2 separate regions of the Homo sapiens genome follow, and region 2 is linked to region 1. Evidence: fine-mapped QTL for protein levels in blood plasma. A gene starts in region 1. The other region holds a variant in brackets. All regions are shown on one strand. Distances are from middle to middle. Region 1 holds the start of PDGFRB (platelet derived growth factor receptor beta). Region 2 overlaps PDGFRB (platelet derived growth factor receptor beta).

Region 1 (9,604 bases):
CCAGTGTTAGGCCCACTGCACTGCACTGCCAGCCTCTTGAAGCTCTCTCTGGACTGTAGTCCAAGGGCTTTGGATGGGGGGCCCATCCCAGCCAAGCCTTAGTCTCGCTCTGTGACCTTGGACACATTAACTCCCCTCTCTGAGTCCCTGCTTCCACCTCAGAATCGGGGATCTTAATTCCTGCCCTGCCCACCTCCAGGTAGGGACAGATGCGGGGGACTCCTGTGAGGCATCTTTGCCTTCCAGAGGCCTCTCTCCTCCCAACACCTTTCTTCTCCTCCTACCCCTCCAGGGGCTGGGGCCGCCACCTGCTGGCACTCCTGGGTACTGCTGGAGGACTCGCCGTACTGTTGCCTTGTCTCAGTAATGCCCGGATGCCACTGATTATCCTAGGGAAACAGAGGGGTAGGGAAGGGTGGCAGTCCCCAGGACACAGACACTTAGGTAGTAGAGGGGATGCTAGAACCAGAGGCCCAGGGCATAGATGTCCTTATCAGAGAAGCACTGTGTCTGACCCACCGTGCTGAGGAGGGTACAGAGGCCAGGGAAGGAAAAAGGCCATACTGTGAGTCAAGTGGCCAGGCACAGGCTGGGACACAGAAGCCCAAACTCCCTGTTGAGATGCATTCCTGCAGCCTCTCAGGTGGATAAAGAGTTGGGGGCAGCACGGAGTACGGGTGTGTGTGTGTGCAGTGTTCAGTCCATGATCGGCCACTGCAGCCTCCACACTCGTCCCATGCCTCCCTCCTGCCCCCTTTCGTCCATCCTCCACAGTGCACTTGGGTGACCTGGTCTCATCAGTCCCCTGTTTAAAATCCTGCAGTGGCCCCTACTGACCCTCAGGATAAAAGTCAGACTCCCTCGAGCCCACAAAGCCCTGATGCCTGGCCACTGACCACCTCTCCAATCTTCCATCCCACTGCCGGCTCTCTGCCTCAACCATTCTTTTCTCTTTGTTCGAACCCATCAAGATCTCTCTGGCCTCCAAGCTTTTGCAGATGCTTTTCCCCCTGCCTCGAACACTGTTCCTACTCCTGAATGTGTGTGGCCTCACAGGCCTGCTTCCTCCCCACAGAAGCCCTATTGTACCTGAACAAGAACTCCCATCCACCCAGCTCATTATTCTCTTTGTCTCTTTCATCACACTCATCACAATTTGATATTATTAATTTGTGGTTTCCTCGGTGTTTGCTTGTGAACTCTGTGAGGACAGGAGGACAGGGCACATAGTAGGTCCTCAATTAACTTCTATCGCATGGATGGATGGTTGGAGGAACAGTTATCTTAGTGATAACTGGGTGTTAGATGGAGAGGCCCCACCCTAGGCCTGCTGTGTGCCCTCAAAAAAGTTCTGGTGCTCTCCAGACCTTAGGAGCCAGTGTATTCAGTGAGGGTGAGGGCCCTGCTCTTCTGGGGATCTATGAGCCATCTGCGTGTACCAGATGGACACACTCAAGTTGCCCACGGTCCTGGGGCTGAGAGGGAGGCCAGCAAGGGGGCAAGGAGAGGCTGAATGGGCAGTGTCTTGAAGCCTTTATCTCCTGGGACCCTGGCAGACCTCGGTGGCTACAGTCTGGCTCAGTAAGACAGTCCTAAGAATCTAGGGAGGGAATGTGGCCCAAGGCCCCTGCTGGTCTTTTGCCCACTCAGAAAGCCACTACACTGAGTGTCCAGGAGGTAGGGGGACAGTTCCCACTCTGTGCCTCTCTGGCTCCCCAGCCACAGGCACAAGGATCTACGTGCTCTGCTCAGGGCATGCATGGGTGGAAGGACACTGAGCTGGGGATCAGGAGTCCTGTATTCTAGCTTCCCTCAGCCCCACCGTGAACCTCAGACAAGTCCCCTCCACTCTCTGGGCCTCAGTGTCCATGCCAGCAGAAGGGACATATCTTAGGGTCCTGACGTCTAAGATGACTGTGTGAGCGCCTGGGGTATGTGTGCTGCTTCCTCATCACCCCCCACCCCCACCCCACAACTCTGCCTGGGGAGCCTGGGAGTGGGGGCAGAGCCAGGAGCGTGGGAGAGCCAGATGTGGTGGCCGCTGCCCTGCCTGAGTGAGGGCTGAGCGGCCTCCTGGGAATTCTCCCACTCAGGCTCCCTTTCCGGTTCCCTCCCCCTGCCCCACTGAGAGCAGCAACTTCCGGCTCTGACAAGCGTGGGTGGGGGAGGGGGGTCTTAGCACGGGGGTCTGTTCAGCCTGGTTCCCTCCTCTGGGGAAGAGCATGGGCTTATGAGTCTAGACAGAAAGCCTCGGTTCCAGTCCCAGTCTGTGGCTGACACATCACAAGGCCTTGCACAAGTTCCTTTCCATCACTGGCCTCAGTCATACCGGCTGTGTAATGAGCATGTTGGTGAGCTTCCCTCCAGCCCTGATGGTGGACTTCTATGACAGCAGCTCTTGGTAACACCTGAGGATCAGTCACCTTTTTTTTTTTTTTTGAGATGGAGTTTCACTCTTGTTGCCCAGACTGGAGTGCAATGGCGCCATCTCAGCTCACCACAACGTCTGCCTCCCGGGTTCAAGCAATTCTCTGGCCTCAGCCTCCCGAGTAGCTGGGATTACAGGCATGCACCACCACACCCAGCTAATTTTGTATTTTTAGTGGAGACTGGGTTTCTCCATGTTGGCCAGGCTGGTCTCAAACTCCTGACCTCAGGTGATCCACCCACCTTGGCCTCCCAAAGTGCTGGGATTATAGACGTGAGCCACCGCGCCCAGCTGGATCAGTCACCTTTTGTGGCACTTTCTTGTTTTGCTCGAGGCTTGACAAAATGCCTGTGGGCATGGCTTATTCAGGTCTCTCCACAACCCTGTGAGGTAGGCACATGTGTCCCCATTTCACAGTTGAAGGTACTGAGGCTCAGAGAGCTCAGGTCATATCATCTCCCAGCGTCACATGGCTGGGAAGTGGTGGAGCTGGGTTGGAGCTGCCAACATCAGAGTCCAGACATTTAACTCTTGAGTGTGCCACCGTGCTGTGGGGGAAGGCAGTGTGGAACCCTAAGGCCCAGAGCCCCCCTCTCCCACTGTACCCCATCCCAGTCCACTTCAGGCAGGGCTCCCCACATTCCATGCTCTGCCCACCTACTCTCAGCCCAGGCTTCCCCAAGACAGCATTGTCCAAGGCTGGACTGGGTTCCCAGTATCTGTGTAGGTGTGAGGATGTTCATAGCTTGTCCTGTCCACAGTGGGGCTGGGGGCCATGCTGACCACCCCAGGGTGATGGTGCTGCACTGCCCATGTGCCCCGTCCATTGCCGCTGAAGGCAGAGTGCACAAGGGGAATCCAAGACCCAGAAAAGGGAGGCTCCGCCCAGGAAGACACAGTGATGGAATGCTGCTCGAATGAGGAAACTCACTATTTCAGTAATAGTGTACACTTAGTACACTTCGAGGCAATGTACTAAGTCCTTTGTACAAACCGAAGAGTCTTATGAATCAGTCTTTGACTTGTCTCCATTTTCCAGAGGAGGAAACCAAGGCCAGGAGTTTAAGTGACTTGCCTAAGCTCATGTAGCTTGAAACTGGAGCAGCTGGGATTCGAACCCAGCTCTATCTCTAGCTCTCCAACCTCCTCTGTCAATCATGACAATTTTGCCCCTTGGTGAGTGCCCTGGGTTGCTCCCTGTAGCTCTGCACCTCCCACCCATATCTCAGTTGAGAGGAGGAGTGACAGTCCTGGTGCCCACCAAGGGTTAATGGCAGTAGGGGCTAAGTAATTCCAGATGGGCCTCAGGACGGCTGGGCTGGCCGGAAACTGGAGGCCGCCAGCTTCCCAGGGGAGCCACCGCCAACTGCCCCTCCCCTTTGTGCTGCATCTCTGGCCCCAGCTGTACCCCTGCCCTAGGGCCCACCAGCCTCCTCTCCCTTGCTAGAGTCCAGCTCTAAGGGAAATTGCAGACGGACCATCCCAAGGGCCTTGTAGCACAGTGAGTCCACAACTGTTATGTACAAATAGGGAAACCGAGGCTCAGGCAGGGCAAGGGACTTATTCAAGTTCTCCTGATAAGTCTGTGGCTGGGTCTTCTGACTCCCAGACTAGCTTCTTTGGGGACTAGGGGGTTGGTGTGTCTCGTGGCCTCCCCCAGGCTGGCCTGGCTGCAGAGGGTCAGCCAAGGATTCAGAGGTGAATGGCCCAGGCAGATGCTAGGAGGGGAGTCGTAAATTTCTGACGGAATCTTTGGGCACAAGAAATCCCTGTGCAAGCCTGACCTTGTGGCCTGTGGGATCTTTTCACATTCCCCTATTTCCCTGTTGCCACAAAGACCTGGCCAGGCCCCCTCTCTCGGGGTACTCTTATGGTCCCCAACCCGTGGCTGGGAACCAGTCTGAGAACACTTCTCCTTCTATGTGGTCCAGCCCAGATGCTCTGCTGGGCAATCCCGATTGGGACTAGACCAAGAAATGCAAGATAGTTGACTGTGGTGGGCATGGAATCCCAGCTCACGCAAATCCTCTGCTCTGTGAACAGGGGTCTGGGGGAAGCTGAGGAGGAAAGACTTAGCGGCGCAGAGGGAAGGAGGGCAGAGCCAGCCTCTACCTGTGTCACCTGGGACAGCTTTCTTCACCCTCTGGAATTCAGTTGCCCTGTGGGTGCAGTAGTGGGAGCAGGGGTGGTAAGCCCACTCTATATGCCCTTCTAAAATAATGCCCTTTGCCATCTGAGGGCTAGGAGTCTGTAACTGGAGATGTCTTCTGATCTGAGAAGCTGAGGGTGGAAGAAGAGACCCAGCTGGGGGAACTGGAGGAGTCTTGGCAGACCCTGGTAGGAAAGGAGAGCCAGAGAATGGAAATGGAACAAAACGGATACTTGAAAGTATCTTGTTGAGGCTGGGTGCGGTGGCTCAAGCCTGTAATCCCAGCACTTTGGGAGGCTGAGGTGGGTGGATCATGAAGTCAGGGGTTTGAGACCAGCCTGGCCAACATAGTGAAACCCGGTCTCTACAAAAAATACAAAAATAGCCAGGTGTGGTGGTGTGCGCCTGTAATCCCAGCTACTTGGGAGTCTGAGGCAGGAGAGTCACTTGAACCTGGGAGGCGGAGGTTGCAGTGAGCCTAGACTGCGCCATTGCACTCCAGCCTGGGAGACAGAGCAAGACTCCATCTCAAAAAAAAAAAAAAAAAAAAAAAGAAAGTATCTTGTTGAGTGACTGAATGAAAGAGCCACAGGGGGAACCTAGGAAGAAAGCAGGGCAGGGGGTTCATCTACACTGGAATAGGGGTCTCGGGTGGGGGTCAGATGACTTGTGTCTCTTCCATCATGTGTCTCATGAGACCTAGTTCTGCCCCAGCTCTGCCATTGCTGCGTAAGCTTGGGAAGCTTATTTTGCTCCTCTGGGCCTCAGTGTCCCCATCTATAAAATGGGGCAAATAATCCTCTCCTTGCACCCCAGGGGCTTTGAGACGTGAAAAGGAATGTATCTGTCAATATCCAGAGATATCCAATCTGTGCTGGATGACCTTGACCAAATCACATTCCCTCTCTGTGCCAATTCACCCCTGGGCCTTGGTTTGTCCTTCTGAAAAACGGCTGATCATCTTGGAGGATCTTTCCATCTCCTCCATGTCACCTCTTCTCAGCAGTGCTCTCTGATTCTCTCAGGCTTCCGTTAGGGGTCCTTCTAAATGCACTCTCAGCCTCCTGTCTGCCGACCGGGCACCTGCTTGCCCAATGAATATCTTGCTCACTAGCCTGGTGCTTCTGAGGTCAGGACCACGTCTTGCTACTGTCCCCTGCACCCAGTACAGTGTTAGAATGTAGTAAATGCTCAGTATGCTTGTTCAATGAATGAAGGTTGACTGAATCAACCACAGAGATGATCAGAGTCTCCTTTACAGATGGGGAAACTGAGGCACTGAGAAATGATCTCCCTGGGTGCCATGGCAAGGGGAGGCCGCCACCCGACATGGGCATCGGGAAAGTGGGGCCGAGGCCACTCTTTGACAAAAGTGACTCAGCAGCTGGCGGCTGGCGTGGGCTGTGGAATTTCTAAGCATCCCCTCACATCCTGAGCGAACGGGCGATGGGAGGGAGTAAGCAGAGTGAAAAGAAGAAAAACAAGAAACTTGGGGGAAAAGAAAGAGAGAGGGGGAAAAAAACTGAAATTGAAAACAGACGCACGCGTCCACCCTCCCTGCCCCGCCGCCCCCCCTTCTCCCAGCTGGGCCAATCAGAAGCCACCCTGCAGCCTTTCCCCCAAAGTGGCGGGGGAAGTGGGGGGGCATGGAAGCCCATAGTGGTGTGAGCTCCTGAGGCTGCCAGCAGCCAGCAGTGACTGCCCGCCCTATCTGGGACCCAGGATCGCTCTGTGAGCAACTTGGAGCCAGAGAGGAGATCAACAAGGAGGAGGAGAGAGCCGGCCCCTCAGCCCTGCTGCCCAGCAGCAGCCTGTGCTCGCCCTGCCCAACGCAGACAGCCAGACCCAGGGCGGCCCCTCTGGCGGCTCTGCTCCTCCCGAAGGATGCTTGGGGAGTGAGGCGAAGCTGGGCCGCTCCTCTCCCCTACAGCAGCCCCCTTCCTCCATCCCTCTGTTCTCCTGAGCCTTCAGGAGCCTGCACCAGTCCTGCCTGTCCTTCTACTCAGCTGTTACCCACTCTGGGACCAGCAGTCTTTCTGATAACTGGGAGAGGGCAGTAAGGAGGACTTCCTGGAGGGGGTGACTGTCCAGAGCCTGGAACTGTGCCCACACCAGAAGCCATCAGCAGCAAGGTAAGTGCTGGAAAAAGTGGGAACCCCAGCCCCATGCCCTGTCCCTTTGCCCTAACCTGCATCTCTTCGAGTAGGTAAAAAAAAAAAAAAAAAAAAAAAGGGAAGATATTTTTAACAAAACAAGATGAGAGGAGGCTGGGAGACTGTGGGTGATGTCAGGGATGGAGGAGCCAGTTTTCTCCTTTCCCCTGCTCTGGGGTGAGTGGCCTCCACCTCATCATCCCTGCTGCTCCTGCCTTCATCAAACAATCCTCAGGGGTTTCTGGGTGCTGACTGGGGGCCTCCAAAGCACAGCACAGTCAATGGGGAGTGGGGAGAGCTGGGAAGAGCGGGAGAGGGGAATTGGGAGAAGGTAGGCAGGGTACACAGAAAGCAGGGGACTGGGGACCTCAGGACCATAGCCGCTGTTCCTTGGCCCAAGCCTTGTTTCTAAGAATCAGTCTGGCTTTAGGCCAGTCAGCCGCCAGGCAACCTCTGGGGATTTAAATGGATTTGCAAATTTTCTAGATTCTTAAGATATCCTTCTAAACCCCCAGCAGCTAGAAAAGTTTGAGGGCTAGGAAAGTTCGAGGGTGATGGGCGGCCATGGCAACCCCCTAGCGGTCATGCTGCTGGGTCTGGGGGCTGGGACCTGGCTGTCAGATCTGGGGGCTCCTCTGTGAAGAAGGGGTCAGCCACTGGGCCATTTCCTTTGGTCCCAGGCAGCTGCTCAGGCCTCCTCGTTGTCTCCCTCCTTCTGGACTCTACCCCTTCTCCATGCCATTCTAAAGCATAAATCCAATCACACCACCTCCCTGCCCAGGATCCGCCTATGGCTCCCCAGTGCCTGGAGAAAGTCCCAGCTCCTAACAGAGGCTGCCACTGCTTGACACTTACTGCACGCCGCAACTGTGCTGAGTGCTTTATGAGACTGATCTCATGTAATGCTCACCAGCAACCCCAGAGGCAGTGACTGTTTTTACCTCCGTTTTATACATGAGGAACTTGAGGCTCACGCAGCCACATAACTGTAGCCACACAGCTAGTAAGTGGCACAGCCTGGAGAGGTTGGAATCTCCCCGTGCCCCATTACTCCAAACTTGGGCCTTTTGTTCCCGCCAGTCAGATCCCAGAATTCCCAGAAGGAATGCGCACCATCCTGCTTGTGGGCATTTGCCCTCCCTCTTCCCCCTTTCTGGAATGCCCTTCCTCATCACTTTTCTTTCAGGGATATTCCATACACCACCTCTTCCAGGCAGCCTTCCTAGGTTCTTCCTGTCTTCCAAGTGCTAGCCATGCACTTTGTGCTGAAGCCATGTTACTTGGCCCTCCCCTGTTGGTGATCTGTTTATGTTCTGTTTGTTCATCAGAGATTGTTCAGGCCCCAGCAGTCAGAACTGAGGCCGCACTTTCTGCTGGGGAAAGGTTTAAGGTTTCCCCATCCTGTGCTCTTCCCCCAGTGCCCAGCCCTGGATAGGCAGTGCGGCTGAAAAAATGTCCTGGTGAAAGGGAGGAGGAGCTCACTGAAGACCTTCTGCTCCCAAGTGTGAGACTAGAACCCAGGCCTCCAGCCTTCTCACAGGTGCCCTTCCAGGACATCGTGTGGCTACTCCAGGCAGCATTCCTCCATTGCAAGCAGGGAGGAGTATCTCTGCTTCCCTCTGTGACCTCCCAATTGCACAGAGGCCTCTAGTGACAAGTTCTGAAGTCATGCAGTCCTCCCCTGTCTCCAAGCAGGAGACCCTGAATCCACAGCCTTCAGGGACATACAGTCCCTGAACACCTACCTCATGCAGGCATAGAGCCTGGTACTTCACACACCTTGGAGTCCTCATGGCAAGTTTTTGAAATCAGTGTTATTACCTACTTTTTGTAGATGAGGAAGCTGAGATCTGGAGAGGCTAAGTGACTTTCCCAGGGCCATACGGTGAGTTAAGGTGGTGTTTAGGCTGAAGTCTGCCTGACTCTAAAGGCTTACCTCGTGCTCCCCGGGAAGCTCCCAGTCAGAGGGAAGAATCTCCATCCTCCTGCAGAGCCTGCTCCTGGCTTCAGCACCTTCCCCAGCAGAAAGTGCAGCCTCAGGTCTGACTGCTCCAAGGTCTGCCCGGGCCCTGGCTTGGTCTTGAGAGAGGAAAGAGACCATCTGGTCAGCACCCTCCTCCCAGACAGCAGTTATCAGCAGCCCCCCTCCTCTGCGGGAAGAAGAGCTGGGACTTATAATTGCCCACACATGTGGGGCAGGCAGTGGAAAGCACCGTGGATCCAGAGTCAGGAGACCCAGTGCTTGCCCTGGCTTGATTTAAATCCACCGTGTGGCCAACCTCAGACCCCCCACATCCCATCTCTGGGCTCCTTCCGCAGCTGGGAGGCAGTGAGCGCTGTGGGTAACCAGCACCAGGCTTGGGCATCAGATGACTATGCATTGACCCCGAGTCAGTTTCTGGCTGACTGTGTGACCCCGGGGCAGCACCTTGCCTCTCTGGGCCTCAATCTCCTTCTCTGTGAGCAGCAGGACCGTGTGTGGGCTCCATGAGACAACAGCATTGGCAAGGTGCTTACCACAGTTCCTGCACTTCACAGCTGGACCTCTGGCCACTGGCTGAGAGAACCACTGCTCTCCTGGCCTCCTGCATTGGAACACTTGGCTGTGAAATTAATCTGCAACCTGCAAAAGGCTCTGCCCACAGAAGGGACCTGGACACCATGTATGTTCCAAAGATCCGTGTCCATCCTCCAGGCACAGGCCACAGTCTGACTCTGAGACCAGCTGCCTTCTAGGCTAAAGGAGGGTGCTCTGGGCATTGGCTCAGAACAGGCTGCTGCTGAATGCAGTGGGAAGGGAGAAAGGGATGAAAAGGTCTTCTGAAATGCCCACCCATTTCTTGCATTTGATTCAGAACCCAGTGGGCAGTGGGT
Region 2 (5,260 bases), 30 kb after region 1:
TGTGAGTCCCCAGCCTCAGTGGCCCCTGACGATCCCAATCCCTACCTTAATCCTGCCTAATTGGTAATGTGCCCATGTACCCACAGCAGGCCAAAGGAGTTAGCATGCCCAGGGGCAAACAGGAGCATTGTGAAACCCTGTTGTGTACATGCATAGGAACACATTCTGGCAAACACAATATGGGTACACACGTGTACAAACACAAGTCTGTAAGCCATGGATATGAATATCCTTCAGTGTGGTGTACATATACTATATGTATGTCGTAAGCCATGTACATGAGCATGCCTGTTCCTTGAACATAGGTGCAAATCCTCTGTGTGTAGATATGTAAATCGTCTACTGAAGAATGCCCAATCTCCAGTCACTCCTGTAAAGCTAGAGTGTATGTGTATAAGCATACACCTGTGCACTATGCCTGTCCATGTATGTAAACCCACCACGTGTTTGTAAGCCATGTACATGAGCATGCCTAATTCCCAGACATCTGTTTAAACCCCACAGTGTATGTCTGTATGCATGTACCGGTGGGTACACAATTCCTGTACATGTGTACAAGCAATGCATGTACAATTCCTTTGCATGCATGCAAACTGGCATAGTGCATGTCTGTAAGCATATAATTGGAGCACACCTTTCTAGAAAAGTGTACAAGCATAATTCCCGTACACATGTGCCTGCTGTACAATGTACATCTGTTAGCAGGTACACATACACGTGTAATTTCTGTGCGTATGAACAATGCCTACCAGTGTCTTGATGCTTTTGTGTATCTAGCTGCCCGTCCTTATGCATACATGCACCTGTATGAGTGTGCTTCATTTATTCACCTTTCTTCTTCATTCGATAAATATGAGGA[C/T]CCAACTTCTCATTGAAGTATAAAGGTCAAAGGGCTCAGCCCTGCCTGGACCTCCTAGTACCCATAGTCCAGAGAGAGAAGGCAGACAAGGAACTTGGCAATTCCCTCCGGGATCACCACATTAGGGGCAAAGCCTGGAGGGAGAAGGGGTCCCATGCCCAGCTATGGGATTCAGGAAAGTATTCTAGAAAAGGAACCTTTAGGTGAAAACCTGAAAAATGACTAGAAGTTAGCCTGGTAAGGAATGGTGTCCCACTCAGAGGGAATGGCCTGTGTAAAAGCCCAGAGGCAAAATGAGTTCCTAGAAATGAAAAGAGTTCAACTCAATCTGGCTGGAGGATCGAGTGTGTGGATACTTAGGGGCTGGAAGGGTGGCAGATAAAGGGGAAGGAAGTGCTATGGGATGGAGCTACAGGGGTCGGCAGATCTAGAGCAGGCAGGGCTCCAAAGGCCATGTGAGGCATCTTGGTCTCTGTGTATGCAGGTCCCTGGGCATGTTCAGGCACGTGCCTGTCTAGAGCTGCCTCCTGTCCCCTGCCCTGTGGTGGATGGGTGGGCTTCTTTCATCCCCTCATTTCACCCATGCTCCCACACATGCATACACATTCTCTGAGCAAGTGGGTATCTGGGCAGACAGTGTGGACAGCCTGAGTGGAAGACCAGCTCTGAGCCAAGGCAGATGTGACACTTTTGTGTGACTAAAGCCTGAGCGGGAAGCTGAGCACCAGCACACAGGGCCTAGGATGGCTGCAAGAGGGCTCCTTCATGCCTCCAGCGATGGCTGCCTAGAAGATGCAGGCTTCCTTCCCAGGACCGAGATGTGTGATGAGCGGGAGGAGGGAGGAGAAGAGGGATGTTGGTCTGGGACCCTGAGGAGGAAGGCATGGCGAGGATAGGTAAGGGTAAGGGAGAATGGATAAGGGGTGAGAGACGAAGTTGGAGAGGGAAGCAGAGGTAGAGTCATGAAGCCTCTGCCTTATGTGCCATTTTAGGAGTTTGGCCTTTTTCCTTTACTGATAACATGGGGAAGCATCCAAAGTTTTTTTTTTTTTTTTTTTTTTTTTTAAGATGGAGTCTGGCTCTGTTGCCCAGGCTGGAGTGCAGTGGTGTGATCTCGGCTCACTGCAAGCTCTGCCTCCCGGGTTCAAACAATTCTCCTGCCTCAGCCTCCCAAATAGCTGGGATGACAGCAGTCCACCACCACGCCCAGCTATTTTTTGTATTTTTAGTAGAAATGGGATTTCACCATATTGGCCAGGCCGGTCTTGAACTCCTGACCTCGTGATCCGCCCACCTTGGCCTCCCAAAGTGCTGGGATTACAGGCATGAGCCACTGCACCCAGCCTCCATCCAAAGATTTTAAGCATAACAATGGCATTCACTTAGTAATTCAACAAATAGTACCAGCTACCTACCATGTGCCAGGTGTGGTTTTAGGGACTGAGGTTATAGCAATGGATGGGGAGGAGGAGGTGGGACAGGACTCCCTAGGGAGCAAAGAAGCATAGATTGGGGACAGAAGAGGAGGGAATGAGTTCCATAGGACCTCATGGGTGGCCAGCAGGGCAGGGCAGGGGAGAGGCAGGTCTGGCGGGGCTGGATGAGGAGAGTGGGAAGCTGTACAGCGAAGAGGCTGAGGCCTTGAGGGTGGAGGAGACTCGAGGCTTGTAAGGGCCAGTGTGAGCCCCACTTTGTTAACTACCGTCACCACTCCAACCCCAACTGGGCCCTTTGGGTGAAGTGGGGAGAAGTGGCCTCCGTGCTGAGGTCTGGATTCATCAGGCTGGGGGTCTCAGCCATTGCTCCCTCAGTGGCCACTCACTCAGTCCACCGGCCACTCGGTCAGGCATGGAGCTTGGAGTCTGACCGAGCTGTGGCAGCCCCAGCAAGGGTGTGGACTCAGAGGAGAGGTAAGCCACAACCCAGCCCTCAGGGGCTCCAGGGCTAATGGGAGGTCCAGGCAATGGACAGGAACTCAGAACAGGATTTGCACCCCGTCCAGAGCTCTGGCAGCAAGGCCAGACTGACTGGCAGGGCTGAAGGGACGTGGAGGCCAGCAGTGATCTGAGTGGGGGTAGTTACTGAGGGGATGGAGTATTTACAGGACAGTCTGAACGTGTGGCCTAGAGCGAGATGCTGAGGGTCTGACACTGCAGGCTGATGGGGAGGTGGGCGCTTCTATTCTGGACAGGATGTGTACGGAGGGATCTATGATGCCAAAGATGGGGTGAGGGGAGGGTAGCTGCCCAGTTTGCTCATGGCCTGCTCTCATCTCTGCCTCCAGCCTTGCCCTTTAAGGTGGTGGTGATCTCAGCCATCCTGGCCCTGGTGGTGCTCACCATCATCTCCCTTATCATCCTCATCATGCTTTGGCAGAAGGTAAGCCCCTCCCTGGCCCAGTGGGTGAAGACTGGCACATCATTATTTTGCATAAATTCCACCCCTCTGCCCTCCTTGAATGCTGCGTGATCTGGCCACATGCAGGGCTCAGCATGGAACTCAGGTGGGGACTTGTGACGCTGGCTGTCTCAGCTTCCTCCACCCCCAGCAGTCTGGGCCAACCTGAGCCTGGCCCGAGCTATCCAGGATTCCCTTCCCCTACTGTGTCATTAAGTCCCCGGGTCCTGCTGAGACACCATTCCTCTCATCCTAGCCATGGAGCATGGGACCTTTGAGGTGGACTGCATGGGCTCCAGGATTCTTCCAGGTCTCACCCATGGAGAACCTGTGATTCTACTGAAATGCATTCTGATCCTATTAGTCTGTAATTTCAGTGTTCTGCTTTGAGATTTTACCATTCTGTGATTCCAACATTTTAAGCTTCCTGAATCAGGATTACAGCACCTCATGATCCCATCTTTCTAAAATTCCAGTCCTGTGGTTCCAACACCTTAAGATGTCAACATTCTAAGCTTACATCTTTCTGACTTGCCCAGCACTGGGGAGGGCCATCCGCATCCAGCCGAGTACCCTACCTGGTGTCACTTTCTGGGGTCACCTGCTCTACTACTTCCATCTGAGGAGCAGCGAAGGCTGGGAGAGAAGCTAGAGAGGAGGTTCTCATGAGCCAGGCCCTCAGCTGCCAGTTGCTCCTCAGTCTGCCAAGTCCTGAAGCCTCCTCTGGGGCCCCTTGGTCCCTGTTCCCTCCGAGCCCACGAAGACCTTGGCTCAGTTGAGCACTTGCTGTGTGACTTCAAATATGCCCCTGCCCCTCTCTGGGCCTCAGGGTCTCCTGCCCCATGTGTCCTAGACGGACGAACCTAATGGGGCTCAGGGCCTGAGACTCCCTCTGATAACTAATTCCTGGGGTTGGTCCTCCAGAAGCCACGTTACGAGATCCGATGGAAGGTGATTGAGTCTGTGAGCTCTGACGGCCATGAGTACATCTACGTGGACCCCATGCAGCTGCCCTATGACTCCACGTGGGAGCTGCCGCGGGACCAGCTTGTGCTGGGTCAGTCCTGAGAGGCCTCATGTGGCAGTGTGGGGACTCAAGTTGGGTGGGAAGACTCTCTGAGGTCTGGTCCCAGCCTTGCCATGACTAGCTATGAGACCTAGGGCTGGTGTCTTGCCTTCTCTGGCCCTCCATCTCCTACTATGTACAATGAGAGCAAGACCATCCCCCAGGAACTGCCTAGCATTGAGGTTCTATGATCCTGTGACCCTGTGAGACGGGATCCCTATGTGGCAAAAGTGGAAGGATTGAGGACAGGCTGAGTAGCAGGCCTGGTCTGGCTGGGGAAGCTGAGGAGGTACAGAGAAGCGTGCTCCCTTGGGAGGGAAGAAACTTTCCAGAGATTAAAGATGGGGCAGAAAGCAGGCAGGACTTAGATGAGATACCAGGAAAGACAGGGAGGTATTGTGGTTGCAGGAGTGTGTTTAGGGAATATCCTGAGTCCAAGGTGGTTTAAGTAATGTCTAGGTTGACCTAAGAGAGTGGCTCTTTCCCCTCACTGGGCAGGAAGGGTGATAGCGGCCGGGGGTAGGGGAGTGGGGGGAGGGGGGCAGCTGGGGGAGCGGTGCAGCTTCCTGGTAGGCCAGGAGCTAATGGATCATCTCTGCACCAGGACGCACCCTCGGCTCTGGGGCCTTTGGGCAGGTGGTGGAGGCCACGGCTCATGGCCTGAGCCATTCTCAGGCCACGATGAAAGTGGCCGTCAAGATGCTTAAATGTGAGTAGTCCTTGGAGCCCTCCACATCTGGGCCTTCACCTCTCCCTGCCCCTCCCCACACACTTAGCCTCTCCCAGGGTGGCCTGATGCTGATTTGCAGGCACTAGAGGGGCCATCACACTGCAGCAGGCACTGCTCCCGAGTCTGGGTCTGGTTTGGGAAAGAGCGTTCCTCTCCCTGGCCTCCTCGGCCTGCTTCCCCCTACCCTGGCCTCTTCCCCTCCTCAGAG

The links. PIP is the posterior inclusion probability: the model's chance that the variant is causal. Protein levels are from antibody-based Olink assays in UK Biobank. Linkage for the fine-mapping came from a reference panel and not from the study's own genotypes, which makes the PIPs less certain.
Region 2: its variant is fine-mapped to the plasma level of the PDGFRB protein (UK Biobank, PIP above 0.99).

What each region holds. Positions count from the first base shown.
Region 1 is chr5:150,152,502-150,162,105 of GRCh38, reverse strand. PDGFRB (platelet derived growth factor receptor beta) reads left to right here and starts at 6,261. Exons shown (of 23, transcript NM_002609.4): 1 at 6,261-6,709. RefSeq lists enhancers at 271-1,180, 1,967-2,036, 3,555-4,343, 8,501-9,020, 9,021-9,541.
Region 2 is chr5:150,124,498-150,129,757 of GRCh38, reverse strand. It overlaps PDGFRB (platelet derived growth factor receptor beta), which reads left to right. Exons shown (of 23, transcript NM_002609.4): 10 at 1; 11 at 3,144-3,238; 12 at 4,181-4,313; 13 at 4,927-5,031. Among named protein-coding and RNA genes, the nearest start is that of PDGFRB, 29 kb to the left of the region's middle. RefSeq lists an enhancer at 1,467-1,968. The variant C/T (reference allele first, on the strand shown) is at 860.